Homo sapiens: one gene and its partner. The protein of the gene in region 1 purifies or fractionates together with the protein of each later gene. This does not show direct contact. Each region holds a gene or a part of one and is shown on either strand. Other genes may lie near its edges. The genes, in order: CHN2 and MGA.

Region 1 (3,825 bases):
GGACATTCAATAAGCATGTGGTGCTCAGCCTCAAACTCTTTCCTGAATGACACAGGACACCAACAAATTGATTAAGTGAAACAGTGCTTGGATTGCATGAATTTATTAGAATCCTTCCCCACTTCTGGCTAAAACAAAAACTTCTTGTTACTTCTCTGAAAACTTGAATGCCACACTCTGAACTAATACCCATCATGCGTGAACTTCACAGAAATCTCCAATGCAGATGAGAGGCTGGAAGCCGTCCATGAAGTGCTGATGCTGCTGCCTCCTGCCCACTATGAAACCCTCCGGTACCTAATGATCCACCTCAAAAAGTAAGCTCATGTCTCGTGCACAAAGCCTGCTCTGCTCCTAGAGCGGTTAATGCATGAGGAAAAGTGGACGGCATTCCTCCCCAGCCATAACTGCTGGAGTTTCACTGTGCCAGGAACCACTCCAGGCACTTTCAGTGTATCATCCCTATGAAAGGGGCGCCACTGTGATGGCTCACGCCTGTAATCCCAGCACTTTGGGAGGCCGAGGTGGGCGGATCATGAGGTCAGGAGATTGAGACCATCCTGGCTAACACGGTGAAACCCTGTCTCTACTAAAAATACAAAAAAATTAGCCGGGCGTGGTGGCAGCCGCCTGTAGTCCCAGCCACTTGGGAGGCTGAGGCAGGAGAATGGTGTGAACCCAGGAGGCAGAGCTGGCAGTGAGCCGAGATCGTGCCACTGCACTCCAGCCTGGGCAACAGAGCGAGACTCCATCTCAAAAAAAAAAAAAAAAGAAAAAGAAAGGGGTGCCATTAGGGGCCTTGTGTCACTTGTGAGATTGCTGATGCCTGGGGAGGTTACACAGCTGATTTGAAGAGGTGAAGGCAGGATCCCAGGCAGGCTGATGTACAGCCTTTAACTACTCTGCCTCCGTGTCTGCATCTTCATCTGACACAAGCCCTGTACTCTGTGTCCTGTTCATCCCCCTGTTGCTTGCCCCTTTCCAGGCTCCTGAGACTGCCTGCCTCCTGGGAGAGCACATTCCCAGCCTGGTCTCTTATTTTTCTGGATGTGTGAGTTCTCTCTCATTGAGTAACAAATTGCTCCCGAAACTTAGTGGCTTAAAACTGTAAACATTTATTATCTCATAGTTTCTAAGGGTCAGGAATCCAGGTGTGACTCAGCTGGCTGCCTCCAGTTCAAGGTCTGTAATGAGGCTGCAGTCTTATCTGAAGGCTTGATGGGTCTGTAATCCCAGCTACTTGGGAGGCTGAGACAGGAGAATTGCTTGAACCCGGGAGACGAAGGCTGCAGTGAGCGAAGATGGCACCACTGTACTCCATCCTGGGCAACAGAATGAGACGCTGTCTCAAGAACAAAAAAATTCACTCCTGAAGGCTTGATGGTGGTAGCATCCATCTCCAAGCCCACTCACATGGTTGTTGGCAGGATTCAGTTCCTTAAAGGCTGTTGGACTGAAGGCCTCACTCCCTCACCAGCAGTTTGCTGGAGGCAACCCTCAGTTCCTTGCCATGTGCATTTCTCCATAGGCAGCTCACAAAAAGCCAACAGGCTTCTCTCAGAACAAAAAAGCAAGAGCACCCAATATGAGAGACAGTCTTTTTGTAAGCTAATCTCAGAAGTGACATCCTATTGCTTTTACCGTGTTTTATCTGTTAGAAGCAAATCAAGTCCATCCCATACTTTAGGGGAAGGGATGCAGGGTATGAATTCCAGGAGGCATGGATCGCTGAGGTCCATCTCAGAGAGTACCTGCCACACACACAGCTGTCTGCGTGAGTGTGTGGGAGACAGAGATGGAGACGTCTGGATGTTTATGGGACACTAGAACCTCTGGTGACACTATTCTCCCTAAACCTTGTGTCTCTCTCTTTCACTGCACATGTGTAATGAGGTCGATGAATTGGTGTTATAACATTGGAGGGATCAGGGCACATCTGTGTGCCTCTGTGTTTTTGAAAGATACTTGGCAGCAGCCCATTCTTTGATAAAAATAAAATGAACCGAAAATTGTCTACATTGACCAGTTTACAGATCTACTTAGTATGTGAAAAGAAGCAAACGGAGGACTGTATAAACAGTAGGTATTGAGATTTTTATTTTTCTACCTTATAAGACATACAAGAAGACATACAATATTGTTGCTCAGATTCAGGGTGATGGTAACATTTAGCTCAGAATATTCCCATTCTGATTAATTTACTGAATTTAGGAGTGCAAGTAATTTTTAGATAATAAACTATGGGTATCACATCTGGCTTTCAATTAGCTGTAAAATACTTATTGTGATCAATATCCAGTTGTTACAGTTTGGAAGGCAAAGTACCACTACCAGAAAAATGCTGACACCTTTCAGCTGAACCTTAAATGCCAATAATACTGTATCTTTATCATAGTGGGTTTGCCAGCCATCTTGTTTAGTCAGGCATAGTGCCTGACTTAAGAGGAAACTGTGGGCACTTTGATGGTGAGAAACGTCCTCTTTCCAACCTTCTTCTTAGGCTTTGTGGCATGTACATGACACAAACTGGGTTGACCTTAAAATAATACTCAATGGCTAATCCTAATGAGTTATAAGGAAATAGAAAGGGATGGCTTTTTATGCACAACCTAAACACATTTTAATTATATTTTCCTAAACACATTTTAATTATATTTTGCTCATTTTTGGAGAACCCATTCCCTTTTACATCTATTATGAACATTCTAAAACTTAAAGTTGTGAAAACAAAACTCTGGGAGATAGATAGATTGTAATTTTATTCCATGAGGAAGGTGTTAAACCAGCTTTGCAGTTTGAATTTTATTCTTAAAGGCTCTGCAGTTCTTACCTGGATGTCGAAATGATTTTTAATTTCAACTGCTGTAGACCTCATCCTGTGGGAACTAGAAATAATGTCCAACTGCCGTCCAGTCTGGCGACATTCCAGCCGTTCCCCCACCCCACGATAACGGCCTGACTCTTCCTCAATTCATGACAGCCCATTCTACACATAACCTTTCTCCTCTGGCACCGGTCCTCCCAGCAGAGAGGGATCCTGCCCTTCCCTTCCCACTCTCCAGCATACAGACCAGCAGGAAGCCACAAGAGGGAAAAAAAAAACGCCTTCTGTATAAGGCCTATGAAAGGACCATGGGCCAGCCTCAGAATCTGCTGCCCCTACAAACCAGTATTCCTCAAATGATAGTTCCACATTTACTTAATAAGGAGGACTAATTTTCTAATTTTAAAAATTGTGTTCCTGCCAGATTCACATAAGTAATTCATTTCCACCGGCGAAGGCAATGTCAACAATTTAAAACGAAAAATCAGTAAATTACCCTTCCAAAAATACCTTTCTGCTGTTCTGATTCCCAATCTTTTTCTTGCAATTTCCTGAACCAGAGATGTTATCGGGACTTACATACATAATCAATACATAAAATCAATCCTCAAGTCTCCATAATGTCTCTGTTCTATATGTTTGTTTTGCAGGGTTACTATGAATGAAAAAGACAATTTCATGAATGCAGAAAATCTGGGGATCGTGTTTGGGCCCACTCTGATGAGGCCCCCTGAGGACAGCACCCTGACCACCCTGCATGATATGCGGTACCAAAAGCTGATTGTGCAGATTTTAATAGAAAACGAAGACGTTTTATTCTAATCCATCAGGGAAATGAGCTGAATGGCCCCAGCACCATCCAAGTTGACACAGCTAAAGGAATAAAAACATTTCTTACCACTTGATTTGTTTTCCAAGCAAGTGCTAGAATTTCCTGGACTGCAGAGGATCGCTGAGTGGGGTACTGTGTCTCATAGACATGCGCCACCTCCACGTGAGAA
Region 2 (3,825 bases), on another chromosome or scaffold:
GGCTAACACAGTGAAACCCTGTCTCTACCAAAAATATAGAAAAATTAGCCGGGCGTGGTGACGGGCGCCTGTAGTCCCAGCTACTTGGGAGGCTGAGGCAGGAGAATGGCGTGAACCCAGGAGGCGGAGCTTGCAGTGAGCGGAGATCATGCCACTGCACTCCAGCCTGGGCGACAGAGCGAGACTCCATCTCAAAAAAAATAGTATGCTTACTCTTTCTTTAAAATTTACCTGGCATAACTGAAGCTTTGTACCCTTTGACCAACATCTTTCAGTCTCTCTCTACCCCCTGGCATCCACCATTCTACTTTCTACTTTTATGAATATTTTGCAGTATTTGTCTTTTTTTGTTTTGCCTATTTCACTTAGCATAGTATTCTCTAGGCTCATCTATGTTGTCATAATTGGTATGATTTTCTTTTTTTTATTGAGATGGAGTCTCAAATGTAGTCAGGTGTTGGTATTCTTGGGTGGTCCTGGAACCAATCCCCCAAGGATATCAAGGAACATTCTAAATACATATGAATAATTCTGATAAGTTATCCAATTTGCCTACAATTCTAGATCCTGAACCCAACTGATTCTCATTACAGAAAAATGATGTCACTTCACAGAATGTAAAAGCAGTTGTAGTATATTTTATAGTGGCTTACATTTATCAACATCTGTAGCATTCCACAGAACCAAGATGTTAAATCCAACACCTGGCCCATCTCAATCTTCCTTTTATTTCTAAGAACAGAAAAACTACTACTTACCATTCAGAAATCTCTTGCTTCAATTGAGGAACTTCACTAAGTGCTGAATCAGTATCCATGAAACCAAGAAAGTCTCGTTTTATATTAAGGGAAGTCTTCTCCAAACCCTTGCCTGATGTTTCATGACCCCTTGACAAAGGATCCAAATCACCTGGTTGTATCTCTGACCCCTGACCTTCTGTAAGACGGACCCGATGACCAGAAGAACTGGAAATATTATTCCCTTCTTGGTCAGAGCTGTTCTTTTGTTTTCCATCTCTCTGGGGCTTATTATTCAGCCCATCATCCCGAAAGCCTTTGGCAAATGGATTGTAATCTATTTTCAGCTGAGTAATCTGAATGTTCTGATAAGCTGTTACTGCAAAGAATTCAGTCTGTGGGAAGGTAAAAGTGTGGACACCAGGGCCATTTAATTGTATCACCTCCACAGCCTTTTCTGCAGGCACCAAATGAAGCCTCGGCAGGTAACGATGCATAGAGTGCAAGATGATATGCCCTTCTTGGTCCAGTGTATTGTTGGTAAGTTTGAGTTTATAGAAAGATACTGGTTGATGCATCCAATAATGACCTGTGGAAGGAGATTCTGGATGAATGAAAACCCTCCCCAAAACATGAGGTTCAGCCTTCCCACTAGGTTCCCACCAACGACCATTCCACTTATAACGATGGTTATCCACAGGAGATATATCCATGACAAGAATATACTTCAAATTTGAATCTAAACCTGTTATCCAATAACGACAGTAAGGAAACATGCGTCTTCCTTGCTTGGTCAGAATCATCTCTGTGCTTCGATGATAGAACTCATTCCACATACTATTGTTATCGAGGGTAACAGTGATTCCACCCACAGTACAATCAGCTGGAAGGCAAATCTTCCCTTTAGATTTTACTGGTGATGACACACTACTAGCCAAAGCACAGGCATCCTGATTAGTAACCAAAATTCCTTGATCAGTTTTGCCATTTCCTGGCTGCTTTAAGATGACAAAGAAGGTAGGTGCTGCTCCTGCCACTGTTCCACCATCTTGATTAGCCAATATAATCTGCTGTTTCTCCTCCATGATTTCAGTAGGAAACTCAGTAGTAAGACAACTGTAATCACCACATAGTCACAATGGCCTTCCCATCCTAAGAAACAAGCAAAAAAAAACCAAAAACAAAAAACACCCTTTAATCAAGTGAGTATTTATTTCTTGAACAAAAATACAAGAACGATTATGTTATCCCCAAAATATTCCTAAATTCTTCTAAGACTTTGCTTCTAAGCTTTTCTTTCAATCACAGTAAGAATATTTACTCTGGAATATCTAATCATTTTTTAAAGTTCATTTTAATCTAATTAGTTAAGGTGCTTATATCCTAATCCTCTAACAATTCACTATAAATACTATAATCTCACACAAAGAAACAAAAGAGTATATTCATTATTAAAAAAGTATACAAAATTAAAAAGTTAAATTTGAAGGTTATGCATTTTTAAAGCATCCTAACACTTTATGAATTTACCAGAAGATTCCTTTATATAGCAAGTTCCCCAGTGATGAGTAAATTAAATAAGTAAAGTTCCATTTTCATCCCAAAGAGCTAATTGTACAGAATTAGTTCTTCATATGGTTCAGAAGACATGGTTCCATAAATAAGTAAAAAGCTATCTAACTTCTTAGTACACACGTTTAAAGAAGCCATGACAAATCACTGGAACTCAATGGACCTTACACTGAAATAAATTCCAGATGACTCTAATATTTAATTTTTTTATTCCTAAATCCTGAGAAAAGTTTTTTGATAAGACACAAAATCTAAAACCAGTAAGGCCAAAAAAAAAAAAAGTGATAAATTTAATACTATATGATGCCAGGTGTGGTGGCTCACACCTGCAATCCCAGCACTTTGAGAGGCTGAGGCCAGTGGATCATTTAAAGCCAGGAATTCGAGACTAGCCTGGCCAACATGGCGAAACCCCATCTCTATTAAAAATTAAAAAATTAGCCTGGTGTGGTGGTGCACGCCTGTAGTCCCAGCTACTCAGGAGGCTGAGGCATGAGAATCACTTGATCCTAGGAGGCAGAAGGTGCACTGAGCCAAGATCACGCCACTGCACTCCAGCCTGGGTGACAGGGAAAGACTCCGTCTCAAAGAAATAAAAATAAAATAAAATTTAATATTCTGTAAATTTTTTAATCTGGCAAAATCATTTAAGCAAAATCAAAAAGCAAACTAACCAGGAAAAGGTATTTGCAACTTATAAAGAACTCCTTTCCCTAATATAAAAAGGGGGCTGGACATGGTGACTCACACCTATAATCCCAGCACTTTGGGAGGCCAAGGCAGGAGGATTGCTTGAAGTCAGGAGTCCCAGACCAGCCTGTCCAACGTAGTGAAAGTCCGTCTCTATTAAAAAATAATAGCGGCGGGGGAGCAGTGGCTCACGCCTGTAATCCAAGCACTCTGGGAGGCCAAGGAGGTCAGATCACTTGAGGTCAGGAGCTCAAGACCAGCCTGGCCAACATGGTGAAACCCTGTCTCTACTAAAAATAAAAAAATTAGCTAGGCATGGTGGTGTGCGCCCATAATCCCAGGTACTCGGGAGGCTAAGACAAGAGAATTGCTTGAACCCAGGAGGTGGAGTTGCAGCGAGCCAAGATGGCACCACTGCACTTCAGCCTGGGTGACAGAGCGAGACTCTGACTCAAAAAAAAAAATAAAAATACATTAACAGTAATAATAATTTTTAAAGGCTTCCTACAAATCAACAAGACCAAATACCTAACAGAAAAATGAGTAAAGGATAATAAACGCAAATGGCTATGAATATGTACATAGTTAAGAGGAAAGCAAATTAAAGTCATCTTGAGATACTGTTTTTTTACTTATCAGACTGGCAAAAATCAAAGCCTGGTAGTGCTGGAAAGGGTTAGGTCAACCAGCATTCTCCCCTAAGCAGTTACTGGGAGTATAAAATAATAGAATCTCTAAGAGAGGGCAACTTGAAAATATCAAAAGTACAAATCCATATATCATCCTATGACAAAGAATTGTTCCCAGGACTTTAAGTTTTCTTAAT

What was found.
Region 2: the proteins of CHN2 (region 1) and MGA purify together in Homo sapiens (affinity purification with mass spectrometry, with the first as the bait; one large-scale study listed by BioGRID). This does not show direct contact.

What each region holds. Positions count from the first base shown.
Region 1 is NC_000007.14:29,509,090-29,512,914, forward strand, and holds part of CHN2 (beta-chimaerin), read left to right. Parts: intron 1-211; coding exon 212-317; intron 318-1,095; exon of another isoform or gene 1,096-3,474; coding exon 3,475-3,646; 3' UTR 3,647-3,825.
Region 2 is NC_000015.10:41,666,892-41,670,716, reverse strand, and holds part of MGA (MAX gene-associated protein), read right to left. Parts: intron 1,890-3,825; 5' UTR 1,823-1,889; coding exon 759-1,822; intron 1-758. UniProt on the Homo sapiens protein: Functions as a dual-specificity transcription factor, regulating the expression of both MAX-network and T-box family target genes. Functions as a repressor or an activator.